2 separate regions of the Homo sapiens genome follow, and region 2 is linked to region 1. The links come from fine-mapping of genetic effects on gene expression. A gene starts in region 1. The other region holds a variant in brackets. All regions are shown on one strand. Distances are between the middles of the regions. Region 1 holds the start of ITGA7 (integrin subunit alpha 7). Region 2 holds the start of TMT1B (thiol methyltransferase 1B).

Region 1 (5,368 bases):
GCATAAAATCAAAACCAAAAAGTTGATATTGGTACAGTATTGTTAACTGGCCTGCAGACCTCACTCAGTTTTCACCATTTTTTACATGCATTTATTTGTTTGTTTGTAGTTCTGTGCAGTTTTATATCTTGTATAGATTTGGATAATCACCACCACAATCAAGATACAAAACCCATCACCACAAAGGAACCCCCTTGTGCTATTCCTTTATGTTTGTCCCCACCCCCCTCCATCCTTGTCCCCTGGCAGCCAGTAATCTGGTCTTCATTTCTATAGTTTTGTCATTTTGAGAATGGTATGCGAGTGGAATAATACAGTTTCAGCATTTTTTGTTTGGAGACAGGGTCTCACTCTATCACCCAGGCTGGAGTGCAGTGGCAAGATCATGGCTCACTGCAGCCTTCACCTCCTGGGCTCAAGTGACACTCCCGCCTAGCCTCCTGAGTAGCTGGGACCACAGATTTGGCTAACTTTTCTATTTTTTGTAGAGATGGGGGTCTCCCTATGTTGCCCAGGCTGGTCTCCAACTCCTGGGCTCAAGTGATCCTCCTGCCTTGGCCTCTCAAAGTGCTGGGATTGCAGGCATGAGCCACTGTGCCCAGCTCAGCATTAATTTTTAATTTAACTAATTCCTAAGCTCTTGACTGAAATACAAGAAGTTCTCTAACAGTTTATTTATTTTAATATTGAGCTTACCGCATTCTCTGGATCCTTCTAGTTTCTTTTTTTTTTCTTTTTTTCTGATGTGGAGTCTCTGTCACCCAGGCTGGAGTGCAGTGGTGCCATCTCAGCTCACTGCAACCTCCGTCTCCTGGGTTTAAGTGATTCTTGTGCCTCAGTCTCTGGAGTAGCTGGGATTACAGGTACCCGCCACCACACCCGGCTAATTTTTGTATTTTTAGTAGAGACAGGGTTTCACCGTGTTGGTCCGGCTGGTCTTGAACTTCTGATCTCAGGTGATCCGCCTGCTTCGGCCTCCCAAAGTGCTGGGATTATAGGCGTGAGCCACCGCGCCCGGCCCCGTCTAGTTTCTTAATTTCCCTCTTCACCTACGATATTATCTTCCACTCCAACATTCTGGTCTCATTTCTCCTTGAGAGAAATCTACATGTCTAAATTTACTAGGCTGGTCTAGCACGCTCTTGTGTGTTCCCCTCCCTCCTTTGCCCCTCTATTTATAGCCAGGCTAATTTTGGGTGGCCTCTCTCTCTCTTCTTTCCTGATCTTTCCTCCTGTGGTGGTGAGGTGACTTCTCAAATATTTGGAGAGAGGAGGTCAGAAGCAGATTCTTGGCATCTGATTTCAGCCCTGGATCACAGAAGCCAGTGGAGTGGGAATGGAGACAGGCAGAAGCTGCAGGTGCAGATAGGAGGCAGCTTGGGCTCTAAAGGCATTTTGAGCTGGGTCGGGGGCGGGGGGACCTGGGCAGGGAGTCAGTAGTCCCAGTTCTGTCCTAATTTTGCAATTCTGCATTCCCATGTCAGCTCTTCTCTACTGTCTGGGGCTCTGAGATATTAAAAAGGATGGGGAGGGCATGGTGAAAGTAGAATCCTGGTGCCAGCCCTGCTGACAGCATATGTATTTCCTTATAGTACCTGTTTAGAGATGTGTTAGTGCTCTGGAGGGGATAGCCACAGGTGTAGTATTGGAAAACAGAGGGCCAGACTTCCAAATGTCTGTTAACTTATCCAAGGCAAAGACTGTCCCAGGGCAGCAGAGTAAGAACCCACTTTTTTTTTGTTTTCAAAGAAGTATAATCCTGAACAATGAAGTAGGAAAGACAGAACACAGGAAGAGGAAGGAGGTAGGACACTTATTGGAACTTTTAAGAAAGGGAAAGAGAAGAAAGAATCGTAAGAATATGATAGTGTTTGAAGGGCAGAGACAACACTAGAAACATTGAGAAATACTCTGAGAAAGATTCCAAGTGTGGCAGAGACAAGAATGATGACAAAATAGAATTTGGGATGAGACAAAATCAGATAGTGAGAGAGAGAAGGGAAGATGGACAGATGTATATTCACAAGACCAACACCAGTAAGCAAGGGGAGTAGGAAGGGGAAGTGGGAGCATTCGAGGTTCCCATTATGCCAAATTATTTCCTGTCTCTCCTTCTGGCCCCATTTCTGTATCGGAGTTATAAATAGCAGAGAGTTGGAAAGTGTCCCCCCACCCCCTTGCCTCTGTCCCAGCCTGAGGGAAAGGGAGAGGAAGAGGGACAGGCCAATGGGTCCCTGTGGAGATCCCATCTCAGCCCCACCCAGGTCCTGCTGAGCCAGTCCAGGACTCTGCCCCCTCCCATCCCCTTTCATGGATAGGAAATGTGCAGTCCTGGGACGGGTCTGGTAGCTGGGGACACCCTTTACATCCCTCTGCCTCTTGGGTCCAGTCTCTTTCATCTTTGCCTTCTTTGACACCCACTCCCCTCCCCACTGCTTAATTTCCTCTTCCTGTAATCATCCCCAGTCGTTTTCTTTTCTCCCTTCATTCCATCCCTTGTCAATTAATCTCTTGCCCTTCTTTCTTCCTCTCTATTCCTTTCCTTTTTCCATTTCTCCATTTGCTCCCCGTATCTCCCGAGTTTCTCTCTCTCTTCTTGCCTCTTTTTCTCTGTTCCCTTGAATCCTGACGATGTGGCTAGCACTGCTGTGGTCATTGCCGGGCTGGGGGCGGGGGATGGGATAGGATGGGGGAGGGCAGCGGTCTGATCCCAACAGCAGAAAGAGTGCTCTATGTGACCATGGGGGAACAGGGAGCACTAAGATGCCACGCTGCACCCAGGCCCAGGACGGCTCCCCTTTCATTTCCTCTCTATCTGCACATCTCTCTTCCCAGGTTGTCTTTTAGCGTCTTCCCAACTTCTCATCTCTTACCCTCCTTCCTCTGTTTCAGCCCCTCTCTTTCTATCTGTACTTCTCTCCCTCCGCATTCCAAGGCGCCGCCTCCACCACTCCCGGGGTGGGGATGGGGTTGGGGGAGAAGGGGAGGAGAGCGCCGCGCAGGGGCGGAGCCGGAGACGGTGCTGGGCTTGGGGGGCGTGGTGGTGGGGGGTCAGCAAGGCTAGTTTCCATCCCAGCCACCAGCCTGGGCATCCCCTTGGAGACGGGCTTGGGTCTCCACCTGCCGCGGGAGCGAGGGGCGGGGCCGGAGGCGGGGCCTGAGTGGCGTCCCCGGGAGAGGAGGCGGGAGCCGGAGTGGGCGCCGGAGCTGCGGCTGCTGTAGTTGTCCTAGCCGGTGCTGGGGCGGCGGGGTGGCGGAGCGGCGGGCGGGCGGGAGGGCTGGCGGGGCGAACGTCTGGGAGACGTCTGAAAGACCAACGAGACTTTGGAGACCAGAGACGCGCCTGGGGGGACCTGGGGCTTGGGGCGTGCGAGATTTCCCTTGCATTCGCTGGGAGCTCGCGCAGGGATCGTCCCATGGCCGGGGCTCGGAGCCGCGACCCTTGGGGGGCCTCCGGGATTTGCTACCTTTTTGGCTCCCTGCTCGTCGAACTGCTCTTCTCACGGGCTGTCGCCTTCAATCTGGACGTGATGGGTGCCTTGCGCAAGGAGGGCGAGCCAGGCAGCCTCTTCGGCTTCTCTGTGGCCCTGCACCGGCAGTTGCAGCCCCGACCCCAGAGCTGGTGAGTCACCGCACCCGCCCAGAGTCGCCATGCCCGAGCCACAGATCGTCCCCCTCCCCACTCTGTGGGCCTCCTCATTTCTCTGTTTTCTAGCCCCACCAAGACCTAGACTGCCCACAGACATCCCACATCCCAACCTGGAGCCTTGCCTCATCTGGCTTGCGTCTGAAGCTGCACTTCCCGGCCCTGAGACCAGTATTTTGCTTTAGGGATGAGTTGGAAAGCAAGGTTCTTGTCTTGGCAGCGAACCATCTCCTTCTTCTGGGCCTTTCCCCCAACTTGCATCCTTGATCCAGCCCCAGGGCCTCTGGCTCCCCTGCTTCTTCCAAGGGCTGAATTCCCCAAGGGAGGGAGACTGTCTGTCTCTGCTTAGAATGGGAGGAGATGGAAAGGACATAGAAGTTGAGGGTGCCATGAGAGGGATGCATGCAGGGCAGACTCCAGAAATAACTTCCTGCTAGAGCATTGCCATGGATGGAATGAGGGCAGCAGGGCACTGGAAGGCCAGGAGAGAGCTTCCACTTCTGTGGCTTAAGACCACGGGAAGATTGGGAGAGGATCTGCAGGTCTGCCAACCTGCAGTAGGTGGCTTGGTGATAGAGAGTGGCAGCAAACTGAACCCTCAAAGTACTAGTAGCAGTAGTAGTAGCCGCAGCAGCTGTAGCAGTGAGAGAGATCCAGGAAGGATGCTGGCCAGGCTGCTCCCCTTCCTCCTCCTTAGCAAATTTCCAACTCCAGGAATCTCAGCAGCTGGGAAGGGCCAGGAGGAGTAAGGGGTGGAGGACAATTCTAATTTTTTCTAATCAGTTCAGGACCCATGGGAGATGGATATACTTTTGTGAGGGGCCTGTGACTGGTCATGTTGCCTGTATCCTTGGCTCTTGCTACATGTCTGATTGTAAAAAGGGAGGCCAGAGGTGAAGAAAGCTTCTCACCTGCTCCTGCTAGGGGGCTTTTCTCTCTTCAACCAGTGCCTAAGCCACATTAAGTATCCATTACTGGGATCAATGCTGTCCACTGGGACTGTCTTCTGCCTCTACTGTCGGTCTGGGGGCAGGGGGCAGGGACAAGAGCTCATTTCTCCTCACTTGCTTGGGGAGTGGGGGCCTAGCTCTAATCTTTCTTCTTCCATTATCCCTATCATCTGGTAGCAGGGTCGGTGGTCCCCAAAACTTTGGGAGAGATAGAAAGCAACGGACTTCATCTCCTCTTCTGTTTACCATCTGCTTCCTCATTCACCTTTGCTCCCTCCCTCCCTTCCTCCCTCCTTCTCCATCTGTCAGAGTTCGAGGACTGGAGGCCTTTTTAGGACATGCTGAACTCTCTAAGCTATTTCCAGGCAAATTCTAGGTTATTTTTAATAGCTTGGTCTCTTGTCATTTCCCCCTCCTCTCTGAAGGTGGCCCCTGGTTCCGTCTCCCAGAGCCAAGCTGGGGCCTTTCCCAGAGGGCCTGACTGCCTCACCCTGCTTTTGCTCCAGCAGGGGGTGCTCTGCTGCTGGGGGGCGGGGGGTATGTGAGAGGCCAGGCACCTGCTCAGTCCCTAGCTTTTGAGTTGCAGGTGGCCTGCCTTAGCACTCACTGATGAAAAAAACTTCTTGCCTGTTTTGATGTCTTTTAGTCTAGCTCTGGGATGAGACTTTAAGGTCTAACCTTTGCTGTGTGGTTCCAGCCTCATTTACTTCCCTCAACTGTAAAAAGGATATAAACATAGTATTACTACATAGGGTTGTTGTGCAGATTAAGA
Region 2 (5,368 bases), 25 kb after region 1:
GAGGTATCATTCCAGAGATGCAGGGGACTAGGAAGCCATTTTCTTCCTCAGGTCTTGTTTGTGTTCTGGGGGACACTATTGGGTCTCTTAAGAAGCTAGAGGGGGTACAAATCTTGAGTCCGGTCCTGATGCTCCACCCTCAAGGCCCTCTTTCAGGGGCCAAGGGAGATACCCTTGGTCCTGCCTCTTGGACGCCCTTCTGGTCTCTCTCTTGCTGTGAATGAGAACCTGGGGACACAGCACTGATGGGAGCACCGTGGGTGCTGCCCACCACACCAGATGCTATTCAGCCTATTTCCTTTCTGCCGCAGCAGGGATGGTGAGGGTGAGGAGCTGTGCCGCGCTAGGCATCTGCTCCAGGGACCGCAGCTCTTCAGGCTCCTCATGGTCTGGCCTGGTGTCCTTATAGATGGGATTCTTCAAACGGGCGAAGCACCCCGAGGCCACCGTGCCCCAGTACCATGCGGTGAAGATTCCTCGGGAAGACCGACAGCAGTTCAAGGAGGAGAAGACGGGCACCATCCTGAGGAACAACTGGGGCAGCCCCCGGCGGGAGGGCCCGGATGCACACCCCATCCTGGCTGCTGACGGGCATCCCGAGCTGGGCCCCGATGGGCATCCAGGGCCAGGCACCGCCTAGGTTCCCATGTCCCAGCCTGGCCTGTGGCTGCCCTCCATCCCTTCCCCAGAGATGGCTCCTTGGGATGAAGAGGGTAGAGTGGGCTGCTGGTGTCGCATCAAGATTTGGCAGGATCGGCTTCCTCAGGGGCACAGACCTCTCCCACCCACAAGAACTCCTCCCACCCAACTTCCCCTTAGAGTGCTGTGAGATGAGAGTGGGTAAATCAGGGACAGGGCCATGGGGTAGGGTGAGAAGGGCAGGGGTGTCCTGATGCAAAGGTGGGGAGAAGGGATCCTAATCCCTTCCTCTCCCATTCACCCTGTGTAACAGGACCCCAAGGACCTGCCTCCCCGGAAGTGCCTTAACCTAGAGGGTCGGGGAGGAGGTTGTGTCACTGACTCAGGCTGCTCCTTCTCTAGTTTCCCCTCTCATCTGACCTTAGTTTGCTGCCATCAGTCTAGTGGTTTCGTGGTTTCGTCTATTTATTAAAAAATATTTGAGAACAAAACCTCTGCCTCTTTGAGTCTTGCTCTGGCATCCCCAGCATCTCTGATTCTCCCTGGTGCCCCCAGCTCAGGAAGAAGGTGGTAGTGGGGAGAGAGGGTCAGGGGGGCTTGGCAGGGATGCAGGCACCATGACTTTTGTGACCAGTTCCTAGAGACGCATGGGTGTAGCCTCAGGAGGAAAGCGAGAGGAGCTTTACCATGGGAACGAAGGAAAGGGACAACATTGGGAGGCAAACGTTGGGAGACTAGTCCAGAAACTTGCAGTTGAGGATACAACAGGGTCCTAGTGTTTCCTCCCTGGGTCAGCGTAGAAGTAGAGCTTTTTCACTGTCGAAGGCGGGATTGAAGTTAGAGATTGCCCTGGCAGAGGTTGGGGAGAGAGGGACTAGTAGGTGGTACATGAATGTCTTCTCTCATTCTGCTAGGTCCCTCTCAGTGGAAGATAGATAGGCTGGTGGGTGGCTTGTTCTAATTGGAGGCTGGGGAAGGAGCAAATGAGTGCCTTGGAGCTTGGGAAAGATTATTTGACAGCCTTTCCCATGATGTGGGGCCCAACAGGTAGCCACTTCAAGGGAGGGGGCTGTCGTTCCATTTGGATTTCGGAGAACTGGGCGTTCTCAAGATCCTTCCAGGTCTCTCTGGTGAGGCAGCAGCCATCCCCAATGTGTTTCCAGGTGGGCTCGAAAACTTGCTGCCACATGAAGGCCCAGCTTCCATATGGTTCTGCCACATGCTCCCAGAAAAAGAGCACACCTCCCTGGGAGGGATGAGAGAGTTAGTGTCACTTGGCTCCATTCTGACCCTGCTCCCTATCGCGCTGATCAAGACAGTCAAACTTCTTGGTGAAATGGGAGCTGCTGGTCTGAGAGTTCATGGAGCAAACTGTCGTGCCCCTGACCTTTTCTGCATCCCCTGCTACCGCCTTCAAAGTGCAT[G/A]TGAAGAACCTCATAACTGAAAGGAGTGGCTGGTGGGAGATCTTTAAAGCCTGACCAGAATAACCGAGGGCATGCAGAAGGGGAAACTGAGAAACAGGAGTGGAGGGCTCATTGTATTATTATTATTATTATTATTTTTTGAGACAGAGTCTCAGTCTGTTGCTCAGGCTGGAGTGCAATGGCGTGATCTCGGCGCACTGCAACCTCCACCTCTCAGGTTCAAGCGATTCTCCTGCCTCAGCCTCCCAAGTAGCTGGGATTACAGGCATGAGCCACCACGCCCGGCTACTTTTTGTATTTTTCAGTAGAGACAGGGTTTCACCATGTTGGCCAGTCTGGTTTCAAACTCCTGGCCTCAAGAGATCCACCTGCCTTGCCTCCCAAAGTGCTGGATTACAGGCGTGAGCCACCTCGCCCAGCTGGGCTTATTGTATTCTGAGATACACGCACAACCTCTCTCACAAAACCCAGATGCATGCACAAGCTGCTTCCTGGACATCGCTGTGAACATCCCAGGGAAACCTCAGGCCCAACTCTTGACTGAAGCTGGGGTTCCTCAAGCTCCTCGCCTCACTATACTCTCCCTAGGTGATCTCAAACCTAGTAAGTCCAAAACAGCTTTCTTCCATCTCAGCAAATGGCACTTTTCATCAGCTCTCCCCTCAGTTGCTCATGCTAGAAACCTGGAAACTATTCTGAACGTTCTCTCCACAGTCTGATGGATTCTACTCTACTTCCCCTACTATCTTTACCTAGAACACTCTTTTATTTTCCCCACCCCGTCCACACTCTGCTTAATCCCTCAGATCTCTCTCTCTCTCTCTCTTTTTATTTATTTATTTATTTTTTTTGATACAGGGTCTCACTCTGTGGCCCAGGCTGGAGTGCAGTGGTGCGATCATAGTTCACTGTAACTTTGAACTCGGGCTCAAGTGATCCTCCCACCTCAGCTTCCTGAGTAGCTAGGACTATAGGCATGTGCCACCACGCCTGGCTAGCTTTTGTATTTTTTTTTTTTTTTTTTTTTGTAGAGACGGCATCTCACTATGTTGCCTTGGCTGGTCTTGAACTCCTGGGCTCAAGTCATCCTTCTGCTTCAGCCTCCCAAGCACAGATCTCGATTTAAACCTCAGTTCCTTAGGTGTCCTCCCCACTCCCCTCCCTGTCCCATGGTGGTAGGTGATCCTCCTGTTGCTTCCACAGCACCCAATTGTGCCCCGTCATGGCACTGGTCATGTCTCCTATTCACCAGCAGGTAGAGGTGGATGGGGTGTCTAATGTGCTACTTACTACCTCAGACGCCCCATTCTGGGGGCCGAACCCTGGGGCGGCTGATGCTGCGTTTGCCTGCCCCACACCCATCCCCTTCCCACCCTGCTTACCGGTCTCAGTACTCTCCGGACCTCCTGCAGGACCTTCCTTGGGCTCTGCACAGAGCACAGCACCAGAGTGCAGACCACCACATCCATGGAGCCATCAGCCAGCTGTCTCATGTCCTCTCCAGGAGCCACCACAAACCGCTCATATTGGAGGTGCCTGTTCTCAGCCATGCTCTTTGTCAGGAACTTCTCAAAGTGGGGATTTGGGTCTAGGCAGGTGACCCTGCAGCCCGGTGGGTAGAACTGAAAGTTGGCTCCGGTTCCGCAGCCCAGCTCCAGTAGGGCCACTTTCCCGGAGGCTCCTGTAAGCCCCTTTATCTGGCTGAAGAGCTCCCGTTTCTTGCTCTCCATCTTGCGGTTGCTCTTGGGAGTCAGCACGGCCATCAGGTAGGGGAAGTAGCTTTTGCACAGGGGCTGCCAGCAGCCCAGCAGAGCCATGAGGTGCAGGGGCAGGGTAAGAAGCAGCACCAGCAGCTGCAGGAGTGGGACCAGGATGTCCATGGCAGACCAGCTCTGAGCTGTGCTTCCGCTGGGGCACTGGCTTTTTCCCTGCTCAGCCTCTGCAGGCGCTGGCGTCCCCTCCCGCTGTGATAGGACTTTGCTCCTTGTCTCCTACTTGACAATTTCCTATTTGCCAGAGTTGAGTGGGTGTATGGAATTCCTCCAGAGGGCGCAGGTCCCACAGCCCCACAAGCTCTTCAATGACTTTTATGTGGGCGGAGGGACAGGTGGTACCCATGTTCCTGAGTTCTGGGGCACTGTGCCCAGCTGAAGGGGGGCAGGGGCTGCTGAGTCATCTCAGAGGGAGTGGGAAGGGGTAAGGGGATATGTTTCAGATGACAGACTCATGGCGGGGGAGTGTCGGGGGCTGGCAGGGCGTTGGGGGTGGGTTGGTAGTGGTGAATGCTGGGGACAGAGTTGACTCATGGGACATATCCTGGCCTCATTTCGTCCTCAGGTCAGGCACTTCAGAGGGGCCATAGGAAGGGAAGGGTGCTCTTGGCAGAGGAAAAAGTAGGTGTACAGGACAGAGACAGCATGCCCTCTCCTGGAAAGGGTGAGAAGTTTAGTTCTGTGGGGAATGGGGTAAGTTGGACAAATAGGGGGAAGTGAGGTCAGAGAATAGCCACTTTTTAGAGATCCTTCCCTCCCTCCCTCCCTTCCTCCCTTCTTTCCTTCTTTCCTTTTTTTGAGACAGGGTCTCTGCTGCCCAGGCTGGGGTGCAGTGGCAGCAGTCTGGGCTCACTGCAACCTCAATGTCCCTAGGCTCAAGTGATCCTCTTACACCAGCCTCCTGATTTTCTGGGACTACAAGTGCATACCACCATGCCCAGCAATTTTTTTTTTTCTGTAATTTGTAGAGACAGGGTTTCACCCTGTTGCCCAGGTTGGTCTTGAACTCCTGGGCTCAGGTGATCCACCCACCTCGACTTCCCAAAGTGCTGGGATTACAGTTGGGAGCCACTGCGCCTGGCTGAGAAGAATTCTTTTTACAAAACATTATTAAACAACTTTTTTTGGAAGAGGCAGTACATTCACTTAGTACAAAATTAAAAAGATACTAAAGAGATTACAGGGAAAATTCTCTCTTCTACTCCTGTGACCCAACCACTCAGATCTCCTCTCTGGAGGCACTAAATGCCATATTGCCAATTTCTTGTGAATCCTTCCAGAGATGACCTGTGAACGAGCAGGGAACACACACACCACGTGTTTAGATCCATGTACATATATACATATACATATTCCCTTTTCTTTTACAAATAGTAGTATATTGTACACACTCTTGTATACCTTGCTTCCCCCCCTTCTTAACAATGTATTGGATTTAGTAGATAATAGCAAATGGGTTTCCAAAGTGATTGTACCCATTTACACGTCCACCAGCAATATTTGGTTTTATGTGTCTTTTATGTGTTCATATTA

The links. PIP is the estimated chance that this variant, and not a neighbour inherited with it, causes the effect. A credible set is the group of variants that fine-mapping cannot tell apart.
Region 2: its variant is the best candidate, but not a certain one, in a credible set for the expression of ITGA7 in lymphoblastoid cells (GTEx, PIP 0.61).

The regions. Positions count from the first base shown.
Region 1 is chr12:55,705,731-55,711,098 of GRCh38, reverse strand. It overlaps ITGA7 (integrin subunit alpha 7), which reads left to right and starts at 3,195. Exons shown (of 25, transcript NM_002206.3): 1 at 3,195-3,622. The coding sequence starts at 3,417. RefSeq lists a silencer at 3,072-3,281.
Region 2 is chr12:55,680,330-55,685,697 of GRCh38, reverse strand. TMT1B (thiol methyltransferase 1B) reads right to left here and starts at 3,962. Exons shown (of 2, transcript NM_152637.3): 1 at 3,446-3,962; 2 at 1,087-1,885. The coding sequence starts at 3,943. The coding sequence ends at 1,649. ITGA7 (integrin subunit alpha 7) reads left to right here. Exons shown (of 25, transcript NM_002206.3): 25 at 410-1,130. The coding sequence ends at 640. RefSeq lists enhancers at 102-601, 3,628-4,303. The variant G/A (reference allele first, on the strand shown) is at 2,064.